Linked DNA regions of Homo sapiens. The protein of the gene in region 1 purifies or fractionates together with the protein of each later gene. This does not show direct contact. Each region holds a gene or a part of one and is shown on either strand. Other genes may lie near its edges.

What was found.
Region 2: the proteins of P2RX1 (region 1) and ATE1 purify together in Homo sapiens (affinity purification with mass spectrometry; 2 studies listed by BioGRID and IntAct, with this or other methods). This does not show direct contact.
Region 3: the proteins of P2RX1 (region 1) and GMCL1 purify together in Homo sapiens (affinity purification with mass spectrometry; 2 studies listed by BioGRID and IntAct, with this or other methods). This does not show direct contact.

The regions. Positions count from the first base shown.
Region 1 is NC_000017.11:3,902,944-3,906,593, forward strand, and holds part of P2RX1 (P2X purinoceptor 1), read right to left. Parts: intron 2,425-3,650; coding exon 2,277-2,424; intron 1,987-2,276; coding exon 1,915-1,986; intron 1,457-1,914; coding exon 1,387-1,456; intron 1,082-1,386; coding exon 985-1,081; intron 861-984; coding exon of another isoform or gene 689-860; coding exon 608-688; intron 401-607; coding exon 259-400; intron 1-258.
Region 2 is NC_000010.11:121,910,929-121,914,578, forward strand, and holds part of ATE1 (arginyl-tRNA--protein transferase 1), read right to left. Parts: intron 2,966-3,650; coding exon 2,862-2,965; intron 224-2,861; coding exon 1-223. UniProt on the Homo sapiens protein: Involved in the post-translational conjugation of arginine to the N-terminal aspartate or glutamate of a protein. This arginylation is required for degradation of the protein via the ubiquitin pathway. Does not arginylate cysteine residues.
Region 3 is NC_000002.12:69,839,607-69,843,256, reverse strand, and holds part of GMCL1 (germ cell-less protein-like 1), read right to left. Parts: intron 2,316-3,650; coding exon 2,218-2,315; intron 1,775-2,217; exon of another isoform or gene 1,705-1,774; intron 170-1,704; exon of another isoform or gene 142-169; coding exon of another isoform or gene 109-141; coding exon 1-108. UniProt on the Homo sapiens protein: Possible function in spermatogenesis. Enhances the degradation of MDM2 and increases the amount of p53 probably by modulating the nucleocytoplasmic transport.

The DNA.
Region 1 (3,650 bases):
GCAGGGCATCAACAAACATCCAGATGACAAGGTCTGCCCACATCCGTTCATTCTGGGCACCTCCTTCGTGCCAGTTCCATGCCAGGACCTGCTGAAGACATGGATCTGACGCTCAGGGGGCCCCAGTATCAGGGGACAGACCCATACATATACTCAGCCCTCACCGAGGAGACTTGGGAAGATGAACTGGGCCTAAAAAGCCTTTATCAGGATCCTGCGGCCCAGCCCTCCCCACGTGCCTGGCACCATGCTCCATACCTTCTCAGCCAGGGTGCTGAAGTTCTGGCCTGACTCTTGCACCACGTAGCCAAGCTGGAAGACTGGGCACAGGGGGTGCAGGGTCTTGTGAAAGAGGCAGGTCTTCATGTGGGCAGCATTCACCTCCTCCACCAGGTTGCGCCTGTGGGGGTGGAAGGTGTTGACAGCTGCTGTGTGTCATCCGGGAGGGTGCCCACCACGCCCCAAAGCCTGGGGACCCCTCACAGGCTCCACATTGCCCCTTTGATTCCTTCCACGCCAGCAGGAATGGAGGGAGACAGAGACAGCTGAGAGCTGCCGGAGCGGCCCCGGCCAGCTGCCTGCATTTCTGCCCGAATTTCCCACGCACCTGTTGACCTTGAAGCGTGGAAAGCTGATGCTGTTCTTGATGAAAAGAGTGAAGTTCTCGGCCTCTCGGAGAAGGGCAGGGCTGGAGGACACCACACGCACTCACCGCCCCTCCCCAGGAGGCCCCCTGTGTGTCCCACACAGAGCTTGGCACAGCAGGGGGTGGGCCGAGCCTCCGGGACCCGCCTGCAGCCCTGGGCTGGTGGAGGGGTGGGTGTGCTCTAGCGTGGCCAGGACCCAGGGGAATCTTCAGCCTAGGTTGCGCGGATGGGGTGAGGGTGGGGTCAGAAAAAGGGGTAAAGATCCTTTCTAGACCTAGGCCCCCCTCTGTCTGGCCTGGGACCCTGTTCTTAGCTCTCTGGAAGGTCAGAGTGTTACCGCGGGATGTCGTCATCCACCTCCACGGGGCACCAGCCAAAGATCTCACACGTCTTCACAGTGTCGTTGAAGGCCACACACTTGCCCGTGCGGATGCCTGGAGCCAGAGGGAAACCCCTGGGTGCCTGCACTAAACAGAGGAGGCCGCCCCAGACCCCTTCTCCAGGAGCTCCCAGTGACGGGCCACTCAAGCAAAGGAGCCAAGGACAGAAACGTGGCTGGGTCCCGGACGGGCAGGCCAAGCCAGGGCGGAGGAGGGGAGACGGCAGGAGGGAGTCCCTCCCGGAGGCCGCCTCGGCGGGAGGGGTGTGGAGAGAGGCAGGTCAGCACCAAGCTGGGCCTGCAGGACGTCAGGGACCGCAGCCGGGGGACTGTGGAGGGACAGGAGGAGGCTGACCTTACCTTGGGCCTTCCTCTTGGCCTTCCCAGGGGTACAGCCACTGTCTTCCTTGCATATGCCCCCTTCTGGGTGCTGGGGGAGGCAAAAGCTGCTGGTCCCAGGCCCCTTGGGTGGGGTCCTGAGAAGAGCCCCTCTCCCCACCCCCCAGGGCCCTAGGGAGAGCGTGGGGCAGAGTCTCAGACCTCTCTGGAGTGACGCCTGCTCACAGCCTCCTTCCCCCATTTCCCCCCACACTGCTCTGCCGAGGCGCCCCCCGGGCTCATGCCCAGCTGCCCACTGCCAATGTCAGCTGGGCGGTGGGGGTGGGCACGAAGTCTCGGCACCCTGCCTGGTACACCGTGTGCTGGGCGGGAAGGCTCAGCTCTGCAAGGGTTGACAGTTGCTGTGTGTGAATATGCGCCCAAATTTCCATCACTATGGCCCCTGCAGGAAGCCTCTCTGGCTTCCCCTCCAGTGCCCCTGGAGACTTTCTCTGCACGTCATTTTCCCCTGTGAGTCCCAGAAGGGGGCTGGCGGGCAGAAGTCCTCACCTCTGCGCAGTAGCCTTGAGTCTGCTTCGGGGTCACGATGAAATTGGTCATGACCACGAAGGAGTTGTCCCCCTAGAAGTGAGGGGCAGGGGGAGGGTGGGGTGGGCTGGGAGCTGGGAGAAGAGCCCCAAGGGCCCCACCGCTGCCCCAGCAGAGGCCCCTAGAGCCCACAGGACACGCAGCAGCCACCACACCCCCTGCCACCAACATGGGGTGATATCACCAGGCTGCTTCTGCCCGGCATTCACAGAGGTCCAGAGAGAAAGAGGAGCTGGGCTGGTCCCACAGGGACGTGGGACAGAGTCCCACCCAACTCTGAGACAGGCCCTGTGAGGGGAAGGTGCAAACCTGAGCCAGCTCACCTGGGCTGGGAAGACGTAGTCAGCCACATCCCAGACCTGGGGGCCGAGGCCAGGGAGCTGGGTCACGGCCAGGCCCTTGAGTTTCACAGAGACACTGCTGATGAGGCCGCTCGAGGTCTGGTAGCCCTTCTCATAGAGAAACACCCACCTGTGCGGGTGGGGACAGAGGGGGAGTTGTGGTTGTGGCACCAGCTGGACCTGTCACACGCTTTCCCACGCCCTCCCCAGATGTGCCTCTGAGCCACCATCTGCTCCTAAAGCTCCTGTCTTGGGCTAGAGGCAGGACAGCCTCCCCTGCCTCCCGCTGCTGGCCTGGGCCTGAAGTTCCACGGTGCTTTTCACTATGAAAATGCTAATTCAGGACGGGCGTGCCATCCCAGCATTTTGGGAGGCCGAGGCGGGTGGATCACCTGAGGTCAGGAATTTGAGACCAGCTTGGCCAACATGATGAAATCTGTCTCTACTAAAAATACAAAAATTAGCTTGGCATGGTGGTGGGTGCCTGTAATCCCAGCTACCTGGGAGGCTGAGGCAGGAGAATCTCTTGAACCCAGGAGCCGGAGGTTGCAGTGAGCCGAGATCGCGCTATTGCACTCCAGCCTGGGCGACAAGAGCAAAATTCTGTCTCAAAAAAAAAAAAAAAAAAAAAGGAAAGAAAGAAACTGCTAATTCAAATACTCTTTCCAATCCTTTTCCAAGAACAGAGTTTGCTGGGGCCTGGAGGCCAAGCCTCCTCCTTCCAGGGTGCTCCTCCTTCCAGAGGTCCCAACAGAGCACGAAGGCTGAGAATATGGTCTTCAATGCCTAACAGCCTGGGTCTAAATCCCAGCTCCATACTTACTGTGGGATTTGGGGTAAGCTATTCAATCCCCTGTGCCTCAGTTTCCTCATCTATAAAATAGGAATAATAACGGTACTTCTTTTTTTTTTGAGACGGAGTCTCGCTTTGTCACCCAGACTGGAGTACAGCGGCGCCATCTCGGCTCACTGCAACCTCCTACACCCGGGTTCAAGCGATTCTCCTGTCTCAGCCTCCTGAGTAGCTGGGATTACAGGCATGCACCACCACGCCCAGCTAATTTTTTGTATTTTTAGTAGAGATGGGGTTTCACCGTGTTGGCCAGGATGTTCTCGATCTCTTGACCTAGTGATCCGCCCGCCTCGGCCTCCCAAAGTGCTGGGATTATAGGCATGAGCCACCGCACCCGGCCAACAATGGTACTTCTTGTAGTGATCAAGTGAGTGAGTTCATACATGTAGAAACACTCAGAATGGGGATGGCACAGAATAAATGCAGTATAGACATTAGTTGTTATTATGATCCAGCCATGCTGGGACCCCCTGGGAGACAGCGAGGAAAACAGAGCAGGGAGG
Region 2 (3,650 bases), on another chromosome or scaffold:
TTAACTGAATGTGACGGTTCACCAGAGCCCAACTTCTCTCCTACGAAATCTTGTGACTGAAGTAATTCCTGAGGTTCTTCTTTCTTTGAATTTTTTCCTTCACTCTCTAAACTCTCTTTGATGTCATCACTGAGTGTTTTAAGATCACACTGTATATCCAGTTTATTTATCAATGCAAAGTCACCCGCAACAGCATCATCCATTGTGGAATCCATGGGCTCATCTACAAATCAGAAGAAATTAAAAATCCATCAGCTGGGTTATTTGATACAGTTAGGTAAATACAGAAATACAATGTTCCTATTATCCATTGTGGCAGAATTACTATCTGTCCACCAAATCCATTCTCATCCTCCAAAATAAGAGAGCTGCACTTAAGACTGGCACAGCTGGGCATGGTGGTTCATGCCTGTAATTCCAGCTCTTTGGGAGGCCAACACAGGAGGACTGCTTGAGGCCAGGAGTTTAAGACCTGCCTGGGCAACATAGTGAGACACTATCTCTACAGTAAATTAAAAAAAAAAAAAAAAAACAAAAACTGTGGCGCCCTAGCAGGGCAATGTACTGCCAGTCCCTTTACAAGTGGTGACCAAGCTCCTGCCAACAGAACATAACACAACTGATACATCCAATTATGCCTCACTAGTTTTAAAGGAAACTTGCGACCCTGAACTTCTACCCTTCCCCACAATGGCTGGATTAGTAAAAACCAGAGCAACCTGGGAAATCACATGTTAAAGAAAAGCCCAGAATGGCTGGTGGGGAGAAGAGTTGAACGCCAACCTAGAACACCCACACTGAACTGTTATGTGAGGAAAGAAACAGACTTTTTTTTTTTTGAGGAGTCTCCCTCTGTCGCCCAGGCTGCAGTGCAGGGGCGCGACCTCGGCTCACTGCAAGCTCCGCCTCCCAAGTTCACGCCATTCTCCTGCCTCAGCCTCCCAAGTAGCTGGGACCACAGGCGCCCACCACCATGCCCAGTTAATTTTTTGCATTTTTAATACAGACGGGATTTCACTGTGTTAGCCGGGATGGTCTCGATCTCCTGACCTCGTGATCCACCTGCCTCGGCCTCCCAAAGTGCTGGGATTACAGGCGTGAACCACCATGCCCGGCCAAGCCCGGCTAATTTTTTGTAATTTTAGAGAAGACAGGGTTTCACCGTGTAAGCCAGGATGGTCTTGATCTCCTGACCTCGTGATCCGCCTGTGTTGGCCTCTCAAAGTGCTGGGACTACAGGTGTGAGCCACCACACCCGGCCCCGAAAGAAACAGACTTTTATCTTTCTTTTAGTTATTGCATTTTGGTATCTTTTTGTCATAGCTGTTTATTCCTTTACTCTAATGAGTACATCACTCCTAGTTCCAGGCACAGATAATTCAGAAGCCTGTAACAAGTCAAATAAACAACCAAATATAAACACTACAAAAGAAAGAGAGGCAGCCAGATGTGGTGGCTCACACCTGTAATCCCAGCACTTTGGGAGGCCAAGGCGGGCAGGTCACAAGGTCAAGAGTTTGAGACCAGCCTGGCCAACACAGTGAAACCCCGTTTCTACTAAAAATACAAAAAAATTAGCCAGATGTGGTGGCGGGTGCCTGTGGTCCCAGCTACTCGGGAGGCGGAGACAACAGAATGCCTTGAACCCGGGAGGTGGAGGTTGCAGTGAGCCAAGATTGAGCCACTGCACTCCAGCCCGGGCGACAGAGCAAGACTCCGTCTCCAAAAATAAAAGAAAGGCAACCACCAATTTACAAATGGACAGCATCTTCAATGCTTATCTCCATGTTCATTTTTCTAACTCAGAACCTAATTCCTTTTTTTTTTTTTGGTGGAGACAGAGTCTTGCTCTGTCACCTAGGCTGGAGTGCAGTGGCAGGATCTTGGCTCACTGCAGCCTTGACCTCCCTGATTCTTGTGCCTCAGCCTCCGAGTAGCTGGGACTACGGGCGTGCACCACGAAGCTCGGCCAATTTTTTGTTGCTCTGTCACCCACGCTGGAGTGCAGTGGCACAATGTCGGCTCACTGCAACCTCTGCCTCCCAGGTTCAAGCGATTCTCCTGCCTCAACCTCCCAAGTAGCTGGGACTACAGGCGCCTGCCACCACGCCAGGCTAATTTTTTGTATTTTTAGTAGAGACAGGGTTTCACCATGTTAACCAGAATGGTCTCCATCTCCTGACCTCATGATCCGCCTGCCTCGGCCTCCCAAGGTGCTGGGATTACAGGCGTGAGCCACTGCCCCCGGCCCCAATATGAAAATTTAAAGAAATAAAACCAAAATTAGTAAAAAGACTAAGAAAAAAAGCAAATCATGTGTAACTAAAGTTAAATAAATGCTATTATGTTTTAGCAAAGCCACTCACAATTCAAAACTGATCACACAAATAAGAGGATTTCAAACAGTATAATTTACTGAAGTAAAGCCTTATTCAAACACAGAAAAGCTGATCTTTATTCAGCATTAAAAGGAATAGGGCAATCTTGTCCAAGCTGCATGTAAGCACTTGCTTCTTGAGAGACAATGGCACTTTCTATTTACTTCATAAGGATAGTATTAGGATCAAGAAAGATGAGTTATCAAAGCATTCTGGAAACAGATATTTTGATAAACTCCAAGAAATCACAAATTTAACATGATCCTCAATATTCTTTCCACGCTAAACTCTTCTGATATATATTCCCATGCCTTGACTTGGGGGCCGATGGTAACAGTAATAGCAGTGCTAACAGTAGTCGCTGTCATCATAGTAGTAGCAGTACATGACTGTATTAATGACCCTTCCCCTTCCCAAGATGACTGAAAGTGGGACCGTTGCAAAGACAGATAGTAAATCGTTTTTAGACCCAGCCCATCTTACCCTCACAACTTCCTTTGGGAACCTCCCCTTTAGCTAGAAATTTCAACATTTTTTTCAAAACCTTCTTGTGAGATTTTGAAGGCTGAAATTGTAAAGGTCGGCACCTAGGAAAGCAAAATAAATATTTAAAAAGTGAACTCAAACCTTGAAGAAATGAAATCAGTTCTGGATATCACCTAGTACAATGAGACCATCTCATGCCTGAGATTTCTGGTTAAAGATGGGGCTTAATGTAGCCTCTAATCCCAGCCCACATCACACTAAGATTATAGTTAAGAGATTTTTTTTTTCTTTTGAGATAGAGTCTCACTCTGTCGCCCAGACTGGAGTACACTGGCACCATCTTGGCTCACTGCAACCTCTGCCACTCAGGTTCAAGTGATTCTCCTGCCTCAGCCTCCTGAGTAGCTGGGATTACAGGCATGCACCACCATGCCCTACTAATTTTTATATTTTCAGTAGAGACAGGGTTTCACCATGTTGGTCAGGCTGGTCTCAAACTCCTGAACTCGTGATCCACCTGCCTCGGCCTCCCAAAATGCTGGGATTACGTGCATGAGCCACCATTCCCAGCAAGAGATTTTTTTTTTTTTTAAAGAGAGAAAGACATAAAACACTAGAAAAAAGAGAAGGACAGAAGTGTTAGAAGCTGGAAAACAGATATACAAAGCAATGCTGTTTTAACAGACCAAAGAAAGTTGAATCCTAGGCCAACAGTGGAAAAAAAAAAAGCCAATTTTCTCTATATTACCCTTAAAAGTCTTAGGGATTGGTGACACCTCATAGCTC
Region 3 (3,650 bases), on another chromosome or scaffold:
CTTTACAGAATCTAATCCATAGGTCCCTGCTGATGTGTAATAGCCACATACAGTTTTCACATTAACTGTTTCCTTCATTGTCTCACCACACTGCTGTATTAAACCGTCCTGTAAATATAAATAAGCACTGGAAAGGCCCATTTCACGTGGGAAAAATTAGCTCTGACAGCTTTTACATATTAAAAAGTAAAAGAAAAAAAAAAAGAAGAAAGAAAAGAAAGAAAACTCATTAAGTGCAGCAAACCTAAGTTTTTTTTTTTTTTTTTAACAAGTCCAATAAAAATACTGAAAAAAGTTCAGCAAGTATTCAACTAAATACTTGGAATTTGAAAATGGAAGGTGGGGGGGAGTAGTAAGGTAGAGAATGAATACTGCTATTCTTTTTCTTTTCTATTCTTCCCCTGTCTGAGACCTTTGCAAATTTCTTTAGCAGCATTTTGTCTGTTTTGCCATTTCTTTTTAAATTAAGAAGTCTACATAGTCAGTTAACCATGTGATGGGACTAAACTAACAGTATGCATTAGCAGAAAGTGATCAAGTTTAAAATAACTACAATATCTAAGAGATAGACTTAAAACAAGTATATTATTATTTCAAATGATTAACATTAAAGTTTTAACCTAAAATGTTTATATAGGTTTTAAGTGAACTAACTTTAATATATGGGAAGAATACTACTTTTCATTCAAATTTCTGAAATACATTCATCATGCAGGTATATTAAGTTAAAGAGTTAGTAAATCATAAAAGTAAGCAGAAGGTGAATTTAGAACAAAACCAAAAGGACCAGAGTTAGATAATAAAGTATACTTATTGGAAGTAAGTATTGAAAGGATCAAAACATTTTGAAAATCAAATGATCTCAACCAAGGATATTTAGCAAGCTATTAATACTTCAAATAAATCAGTACAAAAATACCACATAAAAGTAAACAATTTTTTAAGATTAAAATAAAACATTGACTCCATTAGGATTTTAAACTTACCTGGAAATCATTCTAGACTCCTCCCCTTTCCTCTTAACATTTAGTCTATCACCAAGTCCAGTGGATTATCCCTGAATCTCTCTGGTATCCACTTTTTCCCCTCCAAGCTTATTGCTACTACCCTACTTTCCTCCCTTGGACGAATGCAACAAGTTTTTGTCTCTAATGCTGTACTCATCTTTCCTTCAATTCATCTGTCACATTGTTACTGAAGTATTCTTTCTAAAACATAACTTCGTCTTTCCCCTGATTAAAATATTCCAAAGGTACTGTGTATGCTAAACTTCTTAGCAATGTATAGATGTATTTTCATGATCTGGCTTCTGCCCCCCTCTTCTGCAATCCTTCTTATGTTTATGTGGGAGCCATGTTTCTGTTAGAGTCTTGAATCCTCCATTATTTCACATCACTAGATCTTAGTTTACTCTGTTCTCTCTGTCTGAAATGCTCTTCCTTCCCCTCTTCTTACTTTGCAATACAAACACACTTTCAAGACTCTGTGTGAAAATGTAACTTTCGTATGTGACACCACCAGGATGAACTGACCACTCCCTTCTTTATCCATTCACTAAATGCTACAGGATGTTTATTATCATACCTATAATATTGAACAGCTCTTACTTTACCTTTGGGTTTGTATATCAACCCTCCCTCCCCTCTCCACACATACATACTATGTTGTGAACTTTTTGAAAGTAAGGATTACGTCTTAAGTTACCTTTGGCTTTCTGTGTCTAGTTTGACACAGTGCTCAACACACTTCTCTTCAATGAACAAATCTGTCATTCTGCCAGTAGATTAAAATACATATATGTGATTTATACACAATTCTTTCAAAATTAAGAGAAATTTAAATAGTAGGCATGCATGTTTATTTGAACCCATGAATGAAATTAATTGGTAATCATAAGCCATCTGCTTAATAGTCAAGTCATTAATGAAATCTGTAAATGACCTTAGACAAGTACGTTTTTTCCACATTATAGTCATACTAAGATATCTACACAGAAATGGCCTGCATTCATTTTATGCAGACATCATGACTCCCTCGGTTGTAATAAATTGCTTTTGGTTAGGCATTTTAAATGATTTATAATAAATGTCATATTTATACATTTCATTTTTATTTAAAAACTCCAAAAAAGCTAAGCTTTATTTTTGTTTTTGGAGTACACACTTTGAGACAAAGATTATTATTCTGAACCTTTCTTCGAATAACGTGCATACTTACCAACTGCAGCAAACAAGCTGCTGCCAAAATGGCAACAACTCGACTGGGCTTTATCAAGACATCATCTCGATACAGTGAACCAAATGCAACCTGCAGTGCTGAAAGCAAGGTACACATGTAGGATGAAATAATATTTATATCTATTACAAGTGTTATACAAATAACAACAACGACTGTCTTCACACACAAAGACATCCGTCTAAATGTGGCATGCACATAAAAGGATAACAGAAGTATCTCTAATTAAAACGCTAGTAATGGTTACTGGTTGACACTGTTAATTTAATAACAAGGTTATAAATTTCTGTTTATTCTACCAAATCTAGCTGCATTCTTCTAACATGTAATCTTGACATCAGTGGTCACAACCAAGATGCCTTGCAAGAAGTTGTATAAGATACTCCTCAGTAGACCAATCGTTAAGTACAAATACGCAGACTCAAAGATAATCTTAACCCGGCTGCTTTCAGCACTCCACCACTGAGAAATGTGGTACAGCTCCTGAGTCCTGTCCATGCCACACTCATTCCCAGCCCCCACAGTGATCTATGCCTGTTCATCCTTCCTCCACTGCCACTGTTATGAATGTCCCACATGGTTTGCTTTGTAAATATTCTTTTTTTTTTTTTTGAGATGGAGTCTCGCTCTGTCGCCCAGGCTGGAGTGCAGTGGCGCGATCTCGGCTCACTGCAAGCTCTGCCTCCCGGGTTCACGCCATTCTCCTGCCTCAGCCTCCCAAATAGCTGGGACTACAGGTGCCTGCCACCACGCTTGGCTAATTTTTTGTATTTTTTTAAGTAGAGATGGGGTTCACCATGTTAGCCAGGATGGTCTCGATCTCCTGACCTTGTGATCCACCCACCTTGGCCTCCCAACGTGCTGGGATTACAGGCTGTAAATATTCTTAACTAAAGTATTTCTTTGCCTTTGTATCGCACCAGGTACTTCCATGTGGACCACCAATGAGGGGAGCAGCAAGAGCACTGGAATGGGAATGAGGAGAGCTGTAGTCTGACACAGGCTCACTAAACTGCTCTGAGATCCAAAATAAGTCCCTTAACTCCTCTGAGCCTCAGCTTCCTCAACTAAGGATTCTTTTAGCTCTAAAACAATATTTTTATTTATTGTTCCCAGAAAACATCTTCATACATAGGGAATAATCAGTATTATTTATCAGATTTTCTATGTAATTAAAAAAAAAAATGGTCATACTTTTCCTTCCTCCATCCTACATCTTCCATATCCCAGGTGGGCATATTTACAAAGATAAGTAAACAAACTGATAAGGCCCAAATGACAAAACAGATTAGTGATAAGATGGACAGAACTGATAAACTATGGTGTAAATCAACATCAAATTATCACCTTGAGGTGATAAAAGGAGTTTTCTAGACTACAAGGCTGGAAGGAATTATTTATCTTCTACCAGAAGA